Homo sapiens: one gene and its partner. The protein of the gene in region 1 purifies or fractionates together with the protein of each later gene. This does not show direct contact. Each region holds a gene or a part of one and is shown in the gene's direction. Other genes may lie near its edges.

Region 1 (11,165 bases):
GCTAAGGTGGGAGGATAGCTTGAGCCCAGGAGTTTGAGACCAGCCTGGGCAACACGGTGAAATTCCGTCTCTACAAAGAAAAAAAACAAATAAAAAAATTAGCTGGATGTGGTGGCACATGCCTGTAGTCTCAGCTACTTGGGGGGCTGAGCTAGGAGAATTGCTTGTGCCCAGGAGGTCGAGGCTGCAGTGTGCAGTGATTGCACAACTGCACTCCAGCCTGGGAGACAGAGTGAGGCCCTGCCTCAAAATAAATAAATAAATACATCCTAGGTAGCAAGAAAGCTATCAAATACTACAAGAGTCATATAAAAAATATTCAGGGGCCAAACTAAATAGGCTTTCACTAGTCAAAGACAGGACAAACTGATCATCAATAATAATAACTGCAATTGATTAAACGATATCAGATATTTTAAATGCATGAGTTAATAATGATACTTAAAAAAAGTCCTAATGGTCAACACCGGACGATGCTAATGTAGCAACTCATTTTTTGAAACCTAGTAAACAAAGAGAAATAATCAAACATTTATTATGCCTTTCCTACACTAACTGTACTACTGGGTTTCCAAATAGATGAGTTTTTTTGTTTTTGTTTTTTAAGAGATAGGGTCTTGCTACCTTGCCGAAACTAGTCTCAATCTCCTGGTCTTAAGCGATCCTCCCACCTTGGCCTCCCAAAGTACTGGGGTTACAGACATGAGCCACTACACCTGGCCAAATTTCTCTTTTTAAAAGTATCCCTGTTAATAAATAAAGAAGGAATAATGGAATATTATCATTTTGCATCCTTAATAAATAATGGGCATTGATTGTGAAGGGCTGTTTATATCACAAAAAGAGAGATAGCTAGATAATTGGGCCTTCTGATGGAAAAACATAACACCCATGAGTATTCTCACGTCCCAACCCCAACACACACCAAAGTCAAGCAAATTAAACTACAGCCAATTCTCTAGTTCCAACTATTAATTTACATAAAATATAGAAAATAGAAAAATCATGTTAAACAATACCAGAAAGATGCAATTAGCAAAAACATACCGACTGTGAAAAATCTTGTAAAATAAACTAAATTCTTCAACAAATAAACTGCAAGAAATAAAGAGAATGAATCTATAAATTTAAAAGACGTATCAATCAAATACAACCTGTGAACCATAGACTTGTGTGTGCACCCACATATTTAGAAAACAGTTGGAAATTTACACACTGACTGGATTATTAATATATTAATTAATCACTGCTATTTTTTGTTGCTAAATAGTGGTATTGTGGTTGTGTTTTTAAGAGCTTTTTTCTTTTACAGATATATGCTGAAATTGGTGTGCAATGGTGCAATTATAGCTCACTGTAACCTTGAATTCCTGGGCTCAAGGGATTCTCCCTCCTCAGCCTCCCAAGTAGCTAGAACTACAGGCGCATGCTACCATGCCTGGCTAATATTTTTTATTTTTATTTTTTGTAGAGATGGGATCTCACTATTTGTCCAGGCTGGTCTTGAACTTTTGGCCTCAAGCAATCCTCCTGCCTTGGCCTCCCAAAGAGCTGCGATTACAGGTGTGAGCCCCCATGACCAGCTGTATTGAAATATTTGTAGATGAAATAATATGTTGTTAGGATTTGCTGCAAAATAATAGGGGATGAGGTTGTGGAAGGGGATATAGATGGTGTCATGAGTTGATAACTATTGAAGATGCGTGATAGGTAAATAGATGTTCATCATATTGTTCTGCTTTTACATGTTTTTGAAATTTTGCACAGTAAGAGACTTTTTTCTTAAAAAACAGAAAATATAAGGCACAAAATTTTGAATAAGACAGTTTTAGAATCCTAAGTTCAGGGAGTTTAAATGAATTAGCAAAATCACATAATTAGTAAAAAACATTACTGGGACTAGAATGTTTTCTTAATCTTGGAACAATGCTCTCTACACATTACATACAAAAAATTAACTGCCAAACAATGTTGAGCTGCTTAAAATATTTACTGAATCAATTTATAATTGTTATCACTTCTCATAAAATGAAATAATTCTATGAAAGAGCATCTAGAATACCTTTGACTGTCATAATGTACCAGTTAACAGTCTAAGCTTTTAACATGTATTAATTCCTTTCATCCTCAGAGCAACAATATAATAGGCACTGTTATTATTACCACCATTTTACAGATAAAGAAATGTGAGGCACAGAGAAATTAAGTCCAAGGCAAGATTTAAACCTTGGCACTCTGTCTATGTAATTCTTAAATATTCTATTACACTGCCTCATTTATTAAATAAGCTCAGAATTTCTTAATCTTATTAAAATCTTAACTCAAACAAGAAATTAAAAATGTGCAGAATGGAAATCCAGAGGATAGATCATTCATATAAAATCTTTATAAAATAAATACACATTAGATACAAAAATACACAGGGCTTTAAAATGAAATAAAGAAGGATCCATGGAACAATCATTGCCTTCCAGTATTTGCCTAAAAGCAGATTTGGTATATCAGGTTCCTCCATATCTCTGCCATAGTTTTTGTTCTTTTTTTTTTTTTTTAATGATAAAACAAACAATAGTATTCTGAATCTTGGTAACTGCATTAGTCAATATCGAATAAAAAGTATCCATTTGAAATTAAAATTAAAATAAAACTTTCCATAGTCTACAGTAACTTAACTTTAGGCTCTGAAACCAAGTTAATAAAGGTCAAGTTGCGAGTTTTGTACCTATCTACTTAATTGACACCTAAGCCACAAAACAGTGGTGCTGAAATCAGTTGGGAGGCACTTATCTGCCACTATATAAATATAGATCACACCCAGAGTAAATAAATGGTGAACAGAAATCAAGATTACTCTTAAAAAAAAAATTCAAACCGACAGTTTTCTTTAAAAAGAGAAAATAAGAAATGATTTATCAAATTAGGAGAATATTCTATCACATCTGCTCTTTTCTTAAATTTCTTTCCTACAGTTCAACTTTCCTCATAGGATAATTCAACTAATAATGGTATATAATTCTATCAGTGAGCCTATGGAATAAGTTAGGATATTTTCCTTTTATCTGAGATTTGACTTTTATTGACAAACAAAAGAAAAGTAAAATTAGAAGCCTGTCAAGAGCTCTTACTGGATGTGGTAATGACTTTGAACTTGCTTTCTTCTGTGTTATTTCTGAATCCATGTTATGACAGGCGTCTAAGTTACATAATTAATCCCTGTCCACTGAAAAACTGCAACAGATGTGAAATTCTGTTAACTTATACATAGTAATTAATATGTAATACAAGTTGGATTTTTGTTTAAAATTATAGTTTTGACTGAAGACAGAAATACATAATGGCTTTGGAAGATAAACCTAAGTAGATGAAAATATATCACTCATATACATCAAGAAAACTGATTCAATCCTGTATAAAATAAGCTCATAATTTCTTAACTTATTAAAGTGTTACCTCAAACAAGAAACTAAAAATATTTTGAATAGAAATCCAAAAAGGATAGATTAAAATATATATAATCTTCAACCAAGGATTGAAAGAAAAAATAATAAATTAAAAAATATATAATCAAATGATATATAATAAATGAATAATAATGGAAAAAATCTAATTTTATCCTAAAGTTTCAACAGTGACCTCCACCAAAACCTTCTCCAAGCTCTAAGCAAATGTGAGTTTTACTTTCTTCCTCTGTCCAATTACTCTTTTGTGGAAACACCCATAAAATGTTCCATAGTCCAAATGTAGAAGATGTAACCTCAAAAAATTCTTGTGAGGATTAAATGAGTTAATATTTACTAAGTACCTAGCATGGTGCATGGCACATAGCAAATACTCAAAACATGGTATTATTATGATTGTTTGTTAATATTAATAGCAACTTTCATTTGCATAGCATTTCTTCACAATAACTTCTCAAACTACACAAAATTCTTAATAGTTTACAGAATTCACACTGACGTTCAATATTCCTGGATGTCTGTAAAATTTGAGTAAGAACACAGAAAAATCATAGTGATTCGCCCAGGGAACTAATGTGTTATCTCTGATTCTGGAAATAAAGTAAGTTTTTAGGGCAATTGTGTTTACCCTTAAGTTCAGCTAAAAAAATTAACATATGTAGCACACACATTCCTATAATTCACTAATTTAACTACATTCTTGAAATTATTGAAATTTTAAACTTGTTTTAGCTGAATTTGCAATTTTCAATGTATCCTTAACCACTTCCTTTTAACTTTCTGAGGTGTACTATTAATAAAACACCTAATAGTGTATTCTACTATCTAAAAATTGATTACAAATTTGTACTCTCTCTATATATGATTAAATACAAAAGGCTTTTTAAGTCAATATACGAGAAATTCCTAGATTTCCAAAGATTAAAAAAAATCTGCTTCGTAATAAAAAGAATACACACTCAATGAATGAGATTTATGTTCCACAAAATAACTCTAAAAGATAATCAGTAAGACGTGATGCTGATGAAGTCCCATTTCCTAAATATCCACTATGGAGACTAATGCCTCTTCTAAGTCTTCAATCAAAGAGACAAAATGTAACAGATAAAAAATAAATTGCAATCTGTAATGTATAGTGATCCACAGGGATCTAAAAAAACAAGAATCAAAAGGAAGACTCATCTTGCTTTGTTCCCAGGAAAAGGGCATGATAACTGCTTAAGTATCCACGTCTCTCATTTAAGACTTTCGAAGTTCCTTTTCTGTGATTCCATGATTACCACACAACCTCTAGTTATTAACTTGGCTTCCCAAGTTCTTGGATACAAGAAAGAGTGCACTGGATTTTCAACTTGAAAATTCTGATCCAACATAAACTGGCACTGTAATGTGTACATCATTGTCTAGGTTAGTTTGAACTGGGTTCCTCAAGTCTGGGCAATACATGACTAGAAGTCTACACATTTGAGCTTCTTAGGTTGGAACTGTGAGAACCAGACACTTTCTCATTGACAACTGCTACAATCATTTCTTGTTTTTCACCTCCCTGTCTTTAACCTGTCCCTAAAATGAAACATGCTAGCTAAACCTAATTTAGGCAGATTCATTTAAACACGAAAATGGCTCATTAAAACCAAAGTAACAGCCTAGAATTTAAACCAAAACATAGGATGTATATTTACACAGCCTCATTTACATTATAGTCTATTCCCCACCCCCACCCCCCCAAAAACAAAACAAAACAAAACTGATATTCAAATCGTACTTTAAGGCAAAAATCCAGAAATTATTTTTGCACTTGCATCAGCTGGGAGCATTATTTATAAAGCTGTTTGGCATATGTGACTCATTTATTCCAAGACTTTAAAAAGTATTTAAGAGAAATCCCACCTGGTACAGAGCAGGGTAGGAATACTTGCATTTGAAGTGCATAAATTTGGGTCTTCAAATGATAACTTAGACTTTTCGCACGAGTCATTCAAAAGTAATAGTATTATTCCTTCAAAAAAAAAAAATATCTCTTCCACACTCCAAAGCATTCAGGCTCACACTAGACACTCCAGCTCTTCCACTGTGTCCGTTTAAGTATCACTTATGAGGAGAAAATGCACACAAAATTCTCAGTTCGCCTAAAATAAATAAATGTCTACTATCATTCCTAAATCCACAAGGCAGAATTCTCTTAGAACCATGATGCCAAGAACTTCCACCGCAAGTGAAATTGTCTTCGCAATCTCTGTCTCTAGGAGACTGAAAGGCTGCAGAGACGCTTGAGGATCCTGCAGGGAGGCTAGGGCGGCAGACGGAGGGGGCGGAGGTTAGGGGAGAGTCCCACAGAGGAACTGCATTAGAAGGAAAGATTTTGATAACGTCTAAGGGAGAGGCGGTTAGCTACAGGGGGAAAAAAACAGACCTATTTCCATATTATGTACGTTGTAAAGAAAACGCAAAGTGATGAGGGTAAGGAAACGTTGCCAAAAACAAACAAACAAAAACAAAAAAAAATTAACCCTCTGCGGCCGGAGGGTTAAGAGAAGTCGACAAAAGGAGAAGGGGGAGGCGAATAAAGGCCCCAAAGACCAGGAATTGAAAAAAAATACCCGATTTGTGAGCTTGGCCGTGGTCCAGATCTTCTGTCCTGATAAGCAGATGGCAAGAGGAAAGGATCGCAGTTACTCAGGGTGGTAGAGAGTAACGCGTTTACAAGGGTGACGAGCCCTGCACAAGAAGATGTCGCCTCTCTTTCCACCTGCTCCGCTCAGTCCTTTGCCTCTTACTCTAGCACCAGTGGCATTCGGGCAAAACACTGCCAAAGCCTGCACCGCTGGAGGACAGCAAAAGGAAAATACCTGAGTCTCAGTAATCACACGGGCAGCGACAGGAGGAGGAACCGCGGACAACTGGAGCCTGGGCTGGATCCTCACTAGCTCCGGTCAAACCCTAACTCTTACGGGTGGGGCGGGCAACTTCCGCCCAGAGCAAGGAAAGCGTCACATCCGTCAAATGGCTTCACCCCTCCTCCCTTCTCCGCTGTAGCTGCGTTTACAACGTTCTGACTTCCTCTTCCAGGAGACTTTGGCCTAGTCTCAACACCTGACGTGGACTACATAACCCAGCATTCATCACGGCAAGTGGATTTCCGGGTCAAGAGGTCCGCGCTGGGTACATCACCATGGAAGCAATCGGTTTGGTCACGTGGTGCCCTTGGTTACGCCCGGTGGCAGCTGTGGGGTCTAGGGCTCAGACGGGGGCCATTTTGCCAGAGGCTGCCTCCCGGAGTTGGGGGCGGCCTGGCGGCAGGCTGAAGCTGTTCTTTTGCCTCTTCTGCAGCTTGGGGCTTGGAGAGGATCTGGAAGTCTGGGCTCCATCGAGCCCTTTGGAGACGGCAATGGTTTCTTCCAACCACCACCACCTGACAACCCTGCATGGCGGCTGCCCCCTCCGCGCTGCTTCTGCTGCCGCCCTTTCCAGTCCTCTCTACCTATCGGCTCCAGAGCCGCAGTCGTCCTTCCGCCCCAGAGACCGATGATAGTCGAGTTGGGGGCATTATGAGAGGAGAGAAAAACTACTACTTCCGTGGAGCTGCGGGGGACCACGGTTCCTGCCCCACTACAACTTCGCCTCTGGCCTCGGCCCTCTTGATGCCCTCGGAGGCAGTCTCAAGCAGCTGGTCTGAGTCTGGAGGCGGTTTGTCAGGGGGAGATGAAGAGGACACTCGGCTCCTTCAACTCCTCCGCACTGCCCGGGATCCTTCTGAGGCCTTCCAGGCTTTGCAAGCTGCTTTGCCGCGGCGGGGCGGTCGACTTGGCTTCCCCCGACGCAAGGAAGCTTTGTATCGGGCACTGGGCCGAGTGCTTGTGGAAGGAGGTAGTGATGAGAAGCGGCTCTGCTTGCAACTTCTCTCGGACGTTCTCCGGGGTCAGGGGGAGGCAGGCCAGCTTGAAGAGGCCTTTAGCTTAGCACTTTTGCCTCAACTAGTTGTCTCGTTACGGGAAGAGAATCCAGCCCTGCGGAAAGATGCGCTGCAGATCCTTCATATATGTCTGAAACGTAGTCCTGGAGAGGTGCTGAGAACGCTTATACAACAAGGACTGGAAAGTACCGATGCCCGACTTAGAGCTTCCACAGCACTACTGCTTCCCATCTTGCTTACTACTGAGGACTTGTTGCTTGGTCTGGATCTCACCGAGGTGATAATATCCCTAGCCCGAAAGCTTGGTGATCAGGAGACAGAAGAAGAATCTGAGACAGCTTTCTCCGCACTTCAACAAATTGGGGAGCGACTTGGCCAAGACAGGTTTCAATCTTACATTTCTCGTCTGCCCTCTGCCCTGAGGAGACACTACAATCGCCGCCTGGAGTCCCAGTTTGGAAGTCAGGTTCCTTATTATTTGGAACTTGAAGCCTCTGGATTTCCTGAAGATCCCCTTCCCTGTGCAGTGACTCTTTCCAACAGCAATCTTAAATTTGGGATTATTCCTCAGGAGCTGCATTCACGATTATTGGATCAGGAAGACTATAAGAACCGGACCCAGGCCGTCGAAGAACTAAAGCAGGTGCTGGGAAAATTTAACCCTAGTTCTACTCCTCATTCTAGTCTTGTTGGCTTCATTAGTTTGCTATATAATTTGTTAGACGATTCTAACTTCAAAGTGGTGCATGGCACACTTGAAGTCCTGCATTTACTGGTTATTCGCCTTGGAGAGCAGGTACAGCAGTTCTTGGGACCAGTTATAGCAGCTTCTGTCAAAGTGCTGGCGGACAACAAGTTGGTGATCAAACAAGAATACATGAAAATCTTCCTCAAGCTAATGAAGGAAGTAGGACCTCAGCAGGTGCTTTGTTTACTCCTGGAACATCTCAAACATAAGCATTCCAGAGTGAGAGAGGAGGTGGTGAACATTTGCATCTGCTCCCTGCTGACCTATCCTAGTGAGGATTTTGACTTGCCCAAACTGTCCTTTGATCTTGCCCCAGCTCTTGTAGATAGCAAACGCAGGGTACGCCAAGCAGCTTTAGAAGCTTTTGCCGTATTGGCATCATCAATGGGCTCAGGTAAAACCAGCATCCTTTTTAAAGCTGTGGATACAGTTGAACTGCAAGATAATGGAGATGGAGTGATGAATGCTGTGCAGGCCAGATTGGCTAGGAAAACCTTACCAAGGCTCACAGAGCAGGGATTTGTGGAATATGCAGTACTGATGCCATCTTCTGCCGGGGGTAGGTCAAACCATTTGGCACATGGAGCAGATACGGACTGGCTTTTGGCTGGTAACAGAACTCAGAGTGCACACTGTCACTGTGGTGACCACGTGAGGGATAGCATGCACATTTATGGATCTTACAGCCCAACTATCTGTACCCGAAGGGTATTAAGTGCAGGAAAAGGAAAAAATAAATTACCATGGGAAAATGAGCAACCTGGAATCATGGGAGAAAACCAGACCTCCACTTCCAAGGATATAGAGCAGGTATGCTTCTCTAATTTTCTTGAGTCGAAAGTGTGAAGAATTTAAATGAAAATATGCCCGTGATGACTTAAGGGTCAGCCTGCTTGAGGGAAACATGTTATGCTTTGTTTTAAATTGATTTTAAATCCATCTGAATGTTGGTACTCATTATAATGGTACAGATCACAAAGGACCATTTAATAGGCTTCCTGCTTGATAGATTTAATTAAATTTGAGACACATGTGATATAGACAATACCAAGATTCAGTTTTAGTTACTGTAGCATGTCAGTTTATCTCATTCATACAACAAACATTGAATACCTAGTACGTGCCAGATAAAGAGCTAAATTCTGGGAATGAAGATGAGGCCAGTTTCACACAGTATAGGAAAAAGGTCAGACCTGGGAATTAGCAGTTAACAAATTCGTTAAGTGCTAAAGTAGAAATATAAAGAGTCCTGCAGGAATACTGAAGACAGAAAAACTAATTCCACTAGAAAAGTAAAAAAAAAAAAAAAAAAAAAAGGAAAAAGAAAAAGCCTCCACAGAAGATACAACATTTGAACTGAGATTTTCCCCCCAAAGCTTTTATTTAAAAAATTCCAAATCTATAGGTAAGAGTACAATGAATACCCATATACTTCATCTATATTTACCAGTTGTAACATCTTGACATATTTCCTCCATATTTGCTGAACCATTTGAAAGTAAATTGTGGATATCTTGAGATTTCACTCCTAAATATCTCGGCATATATCTCCTAAGAATGACATTCTTCTTTTATAACCATAAATCATTATTGCACCTAAGACTATCAGTAGTAATTCAATAATATGTAACAGACAGCCTGTATTTAAATTTCCCAAATTGTCTCCAAAAGTGTTTTATATTTCTTGTTTTACTTTTATCATCCAGGATCTAGTCAGGGTTCATGTGGTTAATGTCCCTTGTAATTTTATCTAGAATAATATCCTACTTGTTTGTTTCTTTGTTTTTTCATGGCATTGGCCTTTTATAAAAAGAGTTTGGGGTAGTTTTGTAGAATGTCCCAAGTTTTACATTTATATGTTTACTTGATTAGATTCAAAATAAATATTTTTAGGAAAATATTACATAGGAGATACATATATATTAAGTAGAAGATAAGTAGTGTGAACTTCACAGTACATTACATTATGAGGCAAATGATATCAGGCTGTCCCATCACTGGTGATGCTTAATTTTACTGTTTGGATAAGGTGGTAATAGCCAGATCTCTCCATTGTAAAGGTATATTTTCCTCTTTAGAATTAGCATATAATCAGTACAGTGATACTTTGAGACCCTAAGAATACCCCGACAACTTTTCACCCACTGTGTTTAGCATCCACCAATGGTCTTTACCTGTATCATTTATTACACTGGGGGCTTACAAATAGTAATTTTTTTTTTTTTTTTTTTTTTTGAGATGGAGTCTCGCCCTGTTGCCCAGGCTGGAGCGCAATGGCGCAATCTCAGCTCACTGCAACCTCTGTCTCCCAGGGTCAAACGATTCTCCCACCTCAGTGTCCTGAGTAGCTGAGATTACAGGCTCCCACCACCACGCCCAGCTAATTTTTGTATTTTTAGTAGAGACAGGGTTTCACCATGTTGGCCAGGCCTGTCTCAAACTCCTGACCCACCCGCCTCGGCATCCCAAAGTGCTGGGATTACAGGCGTGAGCCACCATACCCAGCCCAAATTGTAATTTTTAAATTACAAAGGCCAGGCAGGGTGGCTCACACCTGTAATGCCAGCACTTTGGGAGGCTGAGGCAGGCAGATAACCTGAGGTCAGGAGTTGGAGACCAGCCTGGCCAACATGGTGAAACCCCCGTCTCTACTAAAAATACAAAAATTAGCTGGGTGTGGTGGCACACACCTGTAATCTCAGCTACTCGGGAGGCTGAGGCAAAAGAATCACTTGAACCCAGGAAGCAGAGGTTGCAGTGAGCTGAGATCACACCACTGTACCCCAGCCTAGGCAACAGAGCAAGACTGCATCTCAAAAATAATAATAATACTAAAATAAATTAATTACAAAAAGAGTAATTTTAAAAAATTGTGACATTTCTTCTCTGTTTACTACCTGCAATTCTTTTTTTCTTGTATGTGTAATAATTACATATTATTTTTTGTTACTAAATTTTTTTTAACTTTTTCATGATAAAATTGTCCCAAATTTAACTAGTGGCTGGCTCCTGTGTCCTTTTAACATGACTGTTCTTTAGTCTTTGA
Region 2 (11,810 bases), on another chromosome or scaffold:
TTGGGAAGGGGAGTGGGAGGAGAAGCAGCCTTTGGGAGACAATTGTTCCTCCACCCCTACATGGACTCCGGGCTGGGAAGATGAATGGACCTGCATACCCCACACATCATGAGTTTTGAGCAGCGACCAAGATCCAACTTTCCTGGAAGGAAATGTTCGCTTAAGCAGCATCTTGTAATTCATCTCTTGATTTACGCCGGGCATTTCAGTATGTTCCTCCTCCATCCCACTGATTAGATCCAGGCGCTGGGCCTGCCCAGAAACATGCTCTTGGTCTGAACTCCCCCTGCAGGAGCTCCCGGATGAGGCAACTGCGTTTAGTCTAGCTGGCCGCTGGTCTGCCTGGGTGGGTCAGGCTCAGTGTGCTTAATTTAGGTGGCTTCACCCTTTTATGCAACTCAGGAAAGTAACATTTACCAACTCTCCCTCTTTGCTTGTGGTCTCAGCTCTTTGCCTTCCAACAAAGACAGCAGCCAGAAAGATGCCTGCTTTGCCTGCAAAGATGACTTCATTCATGAACTGTGTGTAGCAGGCCACAGAGGAGTGTGACCCTCCTGCCCCTAAAGTACTCAGGGCTAGGGCCCACAGAGGGCTCTAGGCTGCAGAAGAATCAGCTGTGTCCCCCACCAGAATCTAGAGCTCCACCAGTCCCTTCGATGTCCTATGCAAGGCTGAAGATATTGGCTAAAGTGTTCAGCATATTCCAAGGATTTAATTTGAGGTTAAGTTTTTCCCAGCACCAGTGTCATTATAATTCTAGAATCTGAGAGATGGGTGTATGGCGATTCACTAAACCATCCTCTGGTTTTGCATATGTTTGAAATTTTCATAATTAAACAATTTAGAAAGTCATCTTGGGCCCATTGGCAGTATGTATCCCATTTTGGGAAAACTGGAGTGGTCAAACAAGAACATTTGGGGCAAATGGGATGCTTTGGCAGGTCCTAAGAGTGGGGAAGCTGAGGCAGCTGGTTCAGTGTATTGCTATGAACTCATGGAATATACACAGCAGAGCCAACCTAGAGACTGCCTGGAGGAAGCTTCAGAACTAAGCAGTTTTGCCTCTTGTGACAAAAGTATCCTTTGTACTCCCACGAGAACACATCGAATAAGTTAAACAGACTGAGATTGAGTCAGAGATTTTCCACCTAAATACTGGCATTATGCTTACACAAGTGTTCAGGATTCAAAGAAAGTCTTAAATTATAACTAAGGAATTATAGTAGTTTAATTATTTTTAAACTGTATCAAACCGTATCTATTTGTTCCATATCACACCTAGTCACGGGGATGATACAATTCAGAACCAACCCAGATCCTTGACAACTTGAGCTGCTGGTAAGAAGCCAGCTACTTCTGTATTTATTATAAGAAAATGAACCACCACCCCCATTGCTGAGGCCACTTTTAGTTGATATGACATTGTGAAATAAGAAAAATATATAATTAGGCCGGGTACGGTGGCTCACACCTGTAATCCTAGCACTTTGAGAGGCTGAGGCGGGCAGATCACCTGAGGTCAGGAGTTCGAGACCAGCCTGGCCAACATGGTGAAACCCTGTCTCTACTAAAAATACAAAAACTAGGTGGGCGTGGGGGGCACGCACCTGTAATCACAGCTACTCGGGAGGCTGAGGCAGGAGAATCATTTGAACCCAAGAAGCAGAGGTTGCAGTGAGCTGAGATTGCACCACTGCACTCCAGCCTGGGTGACAACAGCAAAACTCTGTCTAACAAAAAAAAAAAAAAAAAGAAAGAAAGAAAAAGAAAGGAAAAATATATAATTGATCTCTGCCCCTGGCTCCTGGCACAGAGCTCCTAAAATTCTTGTCATTTCCTGAGTGATGGGGCACTAGGTGGATCTTTTTGTTCTATTTGGTCTTTGTCCCTTGCTCCTGATAAAGGGTCCTAATCCCTTGGAATTTCATGGGTGATGGGAACATCTAGTATTCTAATGAGATGACTCTTGGTGGGCTGGTCACCAGAAAAACCAAGCCAAGGTTAGAAGCTTGGAACTTTCAGCCCCATCCCCATCTTCTGGGATGGGGAGAAAAGCCAGAGATTGAGTTGATAATTGATTGTGCCGACCAGGCGCAGTGGCTCACGCCTGTAATCCCAGCACTTTGGGAGGCCAAGGCAGGCAGATCACCTGAGATCGGAAGTTCGAGACCAGCCTGACCAACATGGAGAAACCCTGTCTCTACTAAAAATACAAAATCAGCTGGGCGTGGTGGCGCATGCCTGTAATCCCAGCTACTTGGGAGGCTGAGGCAGGAGAATCGTTTGAACCCCGGAGGCGGAGGTTGCAGTGAGCTGAGATTGCACCATTGCACTCCAGCCTGGGCAACAAAGAGTGAAACTCCGTCTCAAAAATAATAATAATAATAATAACAATCGATTGTGCCTGCATTACGAAGCCTCTGTAAAAATCCCTCAACCACAGCGTTTGAAGAGCTTCTAGACTGCTGAACCATGGAGGTACCTGGAGTGGGCATGGAAGGTCTGCGCCCCCATCCTTTGCCCTGGGTACCATCTCATCTGGCTGTTTATCTGTAACCTTTGTCACATTCTTTATAATGAGCCAGTACATGTGAGTGTTTCCTTCTATGAGCCATCCTAGTAAATTAATGGAACCCTCATTTATAGCCATTTGGTTAGAAGTACAGATGACAACTGCTACTTTTGACTGGCATCTGAGGTGGGGGACAGTCTTGTGGGACTGAGCCTTTGACCTATGGGATCTGATTCTAACTCCAGTCATTAGCTAGTATCAGAATTGAATTGTAGGACAACCAGTTAGTGTCTGCTGGATAGTTGCTTAGTGTGTAAGGAAAAACCTCCACACATCTGCTGTCAGAAGCATTGTGTTGAGGACGGGCATGGTGGCTCACACCTATAATCCCAGCACTTTGGGAGGCCAAAGCGGGAGGATCGCTTGAGCCTAGGCGTTCGAGACCAGCCTGGGCAACAAAGTGGGACCCCACCTCTAAGGAAAAAAAAAAAAAGAAAAAGCCGAGCATAGTGGTGCGTGCTTGTGGTCCCAGCAGCTACTTGGGAGGCTGAGGCAGGAGGATCACTTGAGCCTGGAAGCTGAGGCTGCAGCAAGCTATGACTGTGCCACTTCACTCTAGCCTGGGCAACAGAGTTAGACTCTGTCTCAAAAAAAAAAAAATGTGTTGAGTGTGAGAAGAGTAAAAGCAGTCAGTTTGGTTTTTCCTATCTCAAACAGACATATAGAAATTGTGTCTATGTTAGTCTGGTCTCTTTTGGTTGCAAGTGACAGAAACCCAACTTGAACCAGTTTATTAATTAAAATAATTTTTTTTTTGTACAGACGGATTTTTTTTTTTTGTACAGATGGATGTTGCTATGTTGTGTAGGCTGGTCTGAAACTCCTGGCCTCAAGCAATTCTCCCACCTTGGCCTCCCAAAGTGCTGGGATTACAGGCATGAGCCACCATGCAGGTCCAAACTAGTTGAAATTAAAAAGATGGTTGAAGTCGGGTGCAGTAATATGTATAATCCCAGCACTTTGGGAGGCTGAGGCAGGCAGATGGCTTGAGCTCAGGAGTTTGAGACCAGCCTGGGCAACATGGCAAAACTCCGTCTCTATAAAAAGTACAAAAATTAGCTGAGCGTGGTGGCACATGCCTGTAATCTCAGCTATGAGGGAGGCTGAGGTGGGAGGATTGTTTGAGCCCAGGAGGCAGAGGTTGCAGCAAGCTGAGATTGCGCCACTGCACTCCAGCCTGGGTGACAGAGTAAGACCCTGTCTCAAAAAAATAAAAAATTTAAAAGACAGTTGATTGGAAGGATGCTGGAGGAGCTGTAAGAATAAGTGCAGCTCCAGGGAACTCAGATCCTGGGACCAGGGATTTGATGTCCCCAGCACTTTCTTTGCATTTCTCTAGGTAATGGCTTCATCTTCTCAGTCTTTCCCATGTAGTGAATGCTGTAGGCTGCCCTGGAGTCTCACTTTACAATAACCTGACCACACTTCAACAGCAAAATCCCAGGGAAGGACTATCATTGGCTTTGCTTGGCTCACATGCCCATCCTGGACCCATCACTGAGGCCAGAGGGATGGGGTAAGATTGGTCCAGTTTGGACCATCTGCCCATCCTGTGGTGAGGGATGGGGTATGTTACCAGAAGGGAGAGGGGAGGTAGACAGACAAAGACAATAGCCACCACAATGACCATAATCCCGGCAGTCAGGCAAATGCACTCAGGAGGGAAAGCAAAGCAGGTGGGGTGTTCACGGCAGCTCAGAGCCCAGGGTCCAGAGACACGGAGACCTGGGTTTAGTCCTGGTCTCCTCAGTGGTGTAAACTTTGAGGAGTTTCTTAATCCCGTATGCCTCATGTTGTTCATCTTGCCAAAGACAAAACAGACAGCTCTAATCTCAGCTAATCAACCATGAGACAAAGAATGAGAAGCTGAAAAGTCTGTCCTTGGCCTTGCCGGCAGACTCAGGCAGAAGGGAAAAGGTCTGCATTTGTCCTTGTCACAGGTAAACAAGGGGGTCATCCGTGCATCATATGGGAGGCATGAGAAAGACAGGACTGTGGGTCTGATGAAGTCATATGTGGAAGGGTAGTTCTTTCTGATAAGCTACTTCCCAGAACACAAAAGTGTGGAGGATTTTAGAAAACAAAAGGTTTGGGGGTGCGTGGGTGAGATTTCTTAACTGTGGCTGTTTTCTAAGAGCACACAGCTCAGGTTAATTACAACATTGTCAATCAGTAAAATGCTGAAAATATTATTCATCTCATAGATGTGGTGTGAGAATTAAAAACTTTTTTTTTTTTGAGACAGAGTCTCACTCTGTTGCCCAGGCTGGAGTACAGTGGCGTGATCTCGGCTCACTGAAACCTCCATCTTCCGGGTTCAAGGATTCTCCTGCCTCAGCTTCCCGAGTGGCTGGGACTACAGGCACATGCCAATACGCCCAGCTAATTTTTGTATTTTTAGTAGAGACAGGTTTCACCATGTTGGCCAGGCTGGTCTGAAACTTGTGACCTTAGGTGATCCATCTGCCTTGGCCTCCCAAGTGCTGGGATTACAGGTGTGAGCCACCGTGCCGGGCCTGGTGTGAGAACTAAAGAAAACAATCTATATGATTCACTTAGCACAATGCTGGGCACACATATAGGCTGCACGTTTTGCAAACAAAAATACAGAACAATATAACATCCTACATGCACAATAAAATGAAGCAGTTTTTGGGATTTACTTACACTAAAACATTATCTAAAATTTACATTTAACTGTGTGTTCTATATTTTGTCTGGCATCTCCCGGCATACAGTTGTGTTGACGATAAATATTATGGCCATGGATTGAAGATTTATTTTCAATCCATATTACCTGGACAGAAGATAGGGCTCTCTTCTACTAAATACAGCTTTTTTTCTTTTGGAAGACAATCCACTGGCAGGGTTGGGGACTGGGGAAGTGGTGGCCACAGCCCATCTTAGGGCTTCTTCAAAGGCGAGCTGACCTACCTTCTCCGTGCCCCATTCCCTGTCTCTGGCCCTGGTAGCCTCCTCCTTCTTGGAAGCATGGAGGTGGAAACACTGAGGTGGCAACGAGAGACTCCCACGGAATCTCAACGCCTGGAGGGGAGGGATTTTCTATCCATGGCCATCTCTTCACCCTCCAGCACAAAGTTGGGTGACTAGCAAGTGCTCATTCAGTGCTGATGAACTTCAGTTCAAAAGCATCAGGTGCAAAGAGAGGGAAGACGTGTGCTCCTGATTTATTTTTAATAGCCCACATTTGACATGGAAAACAAAAAGTTTCTCTGAAATCCTTGGAAACCGCTGCAGTGGGGCGGGACCCTGGTCCCCGGAGCTTTAATGCACATCTTGGGCGTCACTTTTGGTTCTAAGGTGGCCCCAGGTCCCTCCTTTAAGATGGGAATAACCATGCCTGACTCTTTCCCCACGGACACCACACTGTCCTAGTTTGTGTTCTCTACGCGACCACGAGCTCCTTGAGACAAGGGGTTGAGCCTGCTCCGGCTCATCCCGAGAGCCGGCGCAGCGACTGGCGCAACGAAAGGGAAATGAACGAATGAATGAACGAACGAAAGTGGAGTGGTGGAGAGGACCACAGAAGACGCGGTCATCCAGCGCGTGAACCTTCACCACTGCTGGGCTGTGGACCCTCACTTCCGCCGCCAGGAAGTTTCGGGGTCGCCCACCTTCCCTCCCAGGCTGCTCCGCGTCGGCGGCGCCCCGCGCGATTGGCTGCGCCGCCCCCACGTGACGCCGGGGTGGCGGCGGCGGTTGCCCGGGTGACGGCTGCGGAGGTGGCGGCCGGGCTGGGATAGCGCGAGTGTCCGCGGCCGAGCAGCAGGTAAGCGCGTCCCCGGATGCAGCCGGGCCACCCTCCGCCCGCCGTCCTGGTGCTGGGAGGAGCAGCGGTGCGTTTGGAGGGCCGAGGCTCTGCGGACCTCTTGTTCCGAGGAAAAACCCGACGCGCCCGCTCCGCCGCCGCCGGATGCTACCACTTCTCGCCTGCGGTCCAGGGATCTTTCTTCGGCAAGGGCCGAGGCGGCCGCCTGGACATCCCAAGAAAGGACAGGCCCAGCTGCTTCCCGCAAGTAGTCCCTGATCTTTGCTGCAGTGGGCCATACTTGGAGGGGGTCCCTCAAGCCATCCAGCTGGTGGTGGCGGCGCGAGCGGGTTATCCGGGATTTAGATCCCCCTGATAATCTCCATCTGCTAGCCGCGTTCCTGAGGCACCCAGTTGAAGTCCAGACTTCACCTAATCTTAGGAAAAACAGGATGCGTGCTATGCAGATTCGGCTTCCATACAAATCCCATAATCCCACCCGTTTGTGGGCCCTAAATCTTTCTTATATAGGAATTCAAAAGCTGCCGCTGCAATCCCCAAATGTAACTGGAAAAGTTTTTCTTAGTTTCCGCATAAAGGAGAGCACTGGTTCTCAAACTTGAGAGTGTGTAAAAGTCACTCAGGGAGCTTGTTTAAAAGGCAGATTTCTGGGCATGGTGCCTGCCACGGTGTTCAGTAAGACCAGGGTGGAGGCAGGAATTTTCATTTGCACAAGCGTGCCAGCTGATTCTGATTTAGGTGGTCCAGACTTTGGGAAATACTGTGTAGTGGTTCTTTTCAGCCGCTTAGTCACTTACTGTGGCTGTTGGGAGTGTGTCAGACTTCCTGGGCCTCAAATTGCCTCATCTGGAATGGGAAAATATAAACTATATTCACCTGTCAGGTTTACTATGAAGGTTAAATGTAAAACATTTTGCACATTGCCTGGCATACCATATACCTTCAATAAATGATACCTATTATGATATAAAAGTTTAGAGAAAATTCTGTAATTTCTTTTTCTTTTCCTTTTTTTGAGACGGAGTCTTTCCCTGTCGCTCAGGCTGGAGTGGAGTGGCATGATCTCGGCTCACTGCAACCTCCACCTCCTGGGTTCAAGCGATTCTCTTGCCTCAGCCTCCCTGGTAGCTGGGATTACAGGTGCAGACGCCACCACGCCCGGCTAATTTTTGTATTTTTAGTAGAGATGGGGTTCCACCATGTTGATCAGGCTGGTCTCGAACTCCTGACCTCAGGTGATCCGCCTGCCTCAGCCTCCCAAAGTGTTGGGATTACAGGTGTGAGCCACTGTGCCTGGCCAATTCTGTAATTTCTAAGAATGTTGAGTAATAGGATACCCAGCAGCACTCACATTCAATGACAGTTGATCACAGCAGATACTATTTAAACGGCTTAGGGAGGTCTACTCTAAGGAGGTGATGTTTATTAGGCACAGTGGTTAACCAGGTGAAGAGAGGGAAGAGTGTTCTAGGCGGAGAGAGTAATATGCGCAAAGGCCTTGAGGTTGGCCTCAAGGTTTCAAATTCTCAGAAACTCACTTTTCCCGTTCCAGGGCCTTTAAAATGACATCCCCTCAGCTCCGGCTTCATTTATTCATTATATGCCTTGAGTACCTTTCTTGCTTACTAGACACTCTGTTAGGTTCTGGGGATATGAAGTTGAAATACAGCTCCCTGTCTTTGTGAACAGGGTTATAAGAAGTGCCAGGTGCAGTGGCTCATGCCTGTAATCCCTGCACTTTGGGTGGGTGAATCGCTTGAGGTCAGGAGTTCAAGACCAGCCTGGCCAACCTGGTGAAACCCTGTCTCTACTAAAAATACAAAAATTAGCTGGGCGTTGGTGGCGGACGCCTGTAATCCCATATACTTGGGAGGCTGAGGCAGGAGAATCACTTGAACCTGGGAGGCAGAGGTTGCAGTGAGCCAGATTGCACCTTTGCACTCCAGCCTGGGCGGCAAAAGTGAAACTCCATCTCAAAACAACAAAATTAGCTGGGCGTCATGGCGCATGCCTATAACCCCAGCTACTTGGGAGGCTGAGGTGGGAGAATCACTTGAACCCAGGAGGTGGAGGTTGCAGTGAGCCGAGATCCCGCCACTGCACTCCAGCCTGGGCAACAGAGCTAAACTCCATCTCAGAAAAAGAAAAAAAAAAAAAAGCCTTGGTAGGGAAAGAAGGGAGGGGTTTTTCATGGAAGACTTCTTGAAAAGAGATTAAATCTGGCTTGGCTTAGAATCATGAGTCATGTTTGCCTGGGGGGGCAGAGCATACATCAACCACAGGCTTAGGATCCTGGAAGAGCTTGTTGCATGGGGGAATGGCCAGGAGTTCGCTGTTGGCAGGGTCCAGTGTGGGATTGGTGGAAGGGAGCAAGGAGAGGGATCAGGTAGGGGGAGGTGGATGGATTGGAGGCATGGTCCAGAAAAAGGCTGGAGAGGTGGGTGTCCCCCAGGAGCAGCTGCCTTTCTTCTCTCCCCTTTTGCATCTGGCAGGGCTGGTGTGGTGCATGGGGAGGTGTCCTCCCTGCTCCTCATTACTGCTTCCAGATCACTACCCACTCCTTCACAAACCCCAGCTCCTTTGAAGCACATGGCAGATGCCATACCCCTTGCCAGCCCTCCCTGAGGTAGCCACTTCCCAGGGCAAGTCTCTCCAGTTCCCTTGGAGCCTCCAGCACCCGGCTGGCTGCCTATCCCTTCATCTCTTTTACTTCACTTTTGGGGGTTTCCACATCCTGGCCCCTCCAGTTTCTTCATCCTCCTTACTTGCAGGCGTCTCTTTCCTCCATCCTCCTCATCTGCCCACTCCCGTGGTCGGGAGCTTTTTAGTACTAGTCACCTTCAAAGTCTTGCCTTCAGGCATCTGTCCCACTCTCTGCCCACTCCTTTCCATCTTTCACACTCACTGGAATGTGCCTCCTTCAGCAGGTCTCAGACCCCACTGCTTCCTCACTGCTCTGCAGCCGCCTTATGTGTGTTCCCCTCCCCCATTCTTAACCTGATTAGTTCCAGTGTCCCATCGTGGTTGTACTGTTTTCCCTTTCCTCTCTCTTCTAGAAGAACCTCTCACATTGGTTAACCTAACTCAGATAGCTGAAAGTGCCTGGAGAAGAGCTGCAAAACTGTGCAGACTGATTCCATTTTAGATTCAAGTGCAGAGATCTTAAATGGACTATAATACCAGCAACCCTGCCATGTTGCTGTAGTCGCTTTGGTTCCCACCCTCCCTTCCGTTCCCACTCTCCCTTCTCTTCGAACTGTCACCATGCTTCTTACTTGCAGCCGATGACCTTTTTTCTTTCTTTCTTTTTTTTTTTTTTTTGACAGAGTCTCACTCTGTTGCCCAGGATGGAGTGCAATGGCACGATCTCGGCTCATTGCAACCTCCACTTCCTGGGTTCAAGCGATTCTCCTGCCTCAGCTTCCAGAGTAGCTGGGATTACAGGTGCCTGCCACCACACCCGGCTAATTTTTGTATTTTTAGTAGAGATGGGGTTTTACCATGCTGGTCAGGCTGGTCTTGAACTCCCAGCATCAGGCGATCTGCCTGCCTTGGCCTCCCAAAGTGCTGGGATTACAGGCGTGAGCCACCGTGCCCAGCTGATCTTGTTTCTTGTTTCACTTTTTTTTTTTTTTTTTTTTTGAGACAGGGTCTTACTTTGTCACCTAGGCTGGAGTGCCATGGCGTGATCCCGGCTCACTACAGCCTTGACCTTCCTGGTTCAAGTGATCCTCCTGTCTCATCCTCCCCAGTAGCTGGGATTACAGGCACACACCACCACACCCAGCTAATTTTTGTATTTCTGTAGAGATGAGGTTTCACCACGTTGCCCAGGCTGGTCTCGAACTCATGAGCTCAAGTGATCTGCCTGCCTTGGTGTCCCAAAGTGCCAAGATTACAGGTGTGAGCCACTGCACCCAGCCTGTTTCACTTCTAATCACTAAATCTGTGTCTTTGCTCAGCACCCATATTCTCTGCTATCCCTCTGAATGCCGTTCCTGCTTCTCCCTTAAACTCCAGGCTCATATATCTGTAAGAATTAAAGAAAGAGGAGAGAAACACGAAGGGTGACTTGACAGTCAACAGGTTTGTTTCCTGGGTAACGGCCAAACTTCACCCTCTTACAATGGGCCTCAGTATAACAGTGGGCCTTAATAAGGACATTCTGTTCCCTTCAGGTGCACTAAGGGAAGCTAAAAGCAGACTTGGGGGGTATGCCTGCAGCTGCAGAAAGTTGTATAGGAACAGACACACAACTCTCCCTCCCAGATAAGCACAACAGAGAGACACAGAAACAGTTCAAGCCTTTGATAAACTCTCCCACCCTGAATCCTTAAAAACTCTTAGTCTGTAGGAGAGTGTGGCTCTGACCTAACTCGGTCGGAAGTCCCTCCCAGGTTTGAAATAAACCTGTTGACTGTCGAGCCACCCTTCGTGTTTCTCTCCTCTCTCCTCTTTCTTTGGTTCTTACAATACCCACTGACCATTTCGGAACCTCCACTGGAATGTCTAACAGGCAGCTCAGACTTATAGCCAAAACAGAGCTCTTGGTTTGACCTCAAAACAGTCCTTCCCCAGGTTTTCGTTGACTCAGCAAATCACATACTCTTCGGCCAGCTGCTCAGATCCCAGGGTTCTTCCTTCCCTTCTTCCCCTCATGTCCCACAACTAACTGGTCTGCAGATTGTGCCTCTTCTGCCTTTTCCATCTGGACTCACAGCGCTCATGGCCCCTCTTGCTTATCCAAATGATGCTCATGGCTGGCGTGGCCTGAGCAGTACTCATCTCCCTCTTCCCACTCCCCTCCAGTCTTCTCTGTAGAGCAGGCAACATGCATATTAAAAAATGGACATCAGCAGCCGGGCGTGGTGGCTCACCCCTGTAATCCCAGCACTTTGGGAGGCAGAGGAGGGAGGATTGAGCCCAGGAGTTCAAGACCAGCCTGAGCAATGGTGAAATCCTGTCTCTGAAAAAACCAAGGCTGGGCGTGGTGGCTCATGCCTGTAATCCCAGCACTTTGGGAGGCCGAGGCAGGTGGATCACCTGAGGTCAGGAGTTCGAGACCAGCCTGGCCAACGTGGTAAAACCCCGTCTCTACTAAAAATACAAAAATTAGCTAGGCATGGTGGCGGGTGCCTGTAATCCCAGCTACTCGGGAGGCTGAAGCAGGAGAATTGCTGGAACCCCGGAGGTGGAGGTTGCAGTGAGCCAAGATTGTGCCATTCTACTCCAGCCCAAGCAACAACAGCGAGACTCTGTCTCAAAAACAAACAAACAAAAAAAAACCTCACCAAAAACCAAACAAATGAAAAAACCAGAAAACAAAAGACTTGGGGCATAGTGGCACACTCTGTAGGCCCAGCTACTCAGGAGGCTGAGGTGGGAGGACTGCTTGAGTCCAGGAGTTTGAGGCTGCAGTGAGCTATGATCATGTCACTGCACTCTAGC

Evidence for each region.
Region 2: the proteins of TOGARAM1 (region 1) and ARMC9 purify together in Homo sapiens (co-immunoprecipitation; 2 studies listed by IntAct). This does not show direct contact.

What each region holds. Positions count from the first base shown.
Region 1 is NC_000014.9:44,955,539-44,966,703, forward strand, and holds the start of TOGARAM1 (TOG array regulator of axonemal microtubules protein 1), read left to right. Parts: upstream 1-6,651; 5' UTR 6,652-6,883; coding exon 6,884-8,929; intron 8,930-11,165. Other genes in the region: KLHL28 (kelch-like protein 28), read right to left, coding at 5,349-5,390. UniProt on the Homo sapiens protein: Involved in ciliogenesis. It is required for appropriate acetylation and polyglutamylation of ciliary microtubules, and regulation of cilium length.
Region 2 is NC_000002.12:231,192,337-231,204,146, forward strand, and holds the start of ARMC9 (lisH domain-containing protein ARMC9), read left to right. Parts: upstream 1-6,294; 5' UTR 6,295-6,362; exon of another isoform or gene 6,363-6,609; intron 6,610-11,810. UniProt on the Homo sapiens protein: Involved in ciliogenesis. It is required for appropriate acetylation and polyglutamylation of ciliary microtubules, and regulation of cilium length. Acts as a positive regulator of hedgehog (Hh)signaling.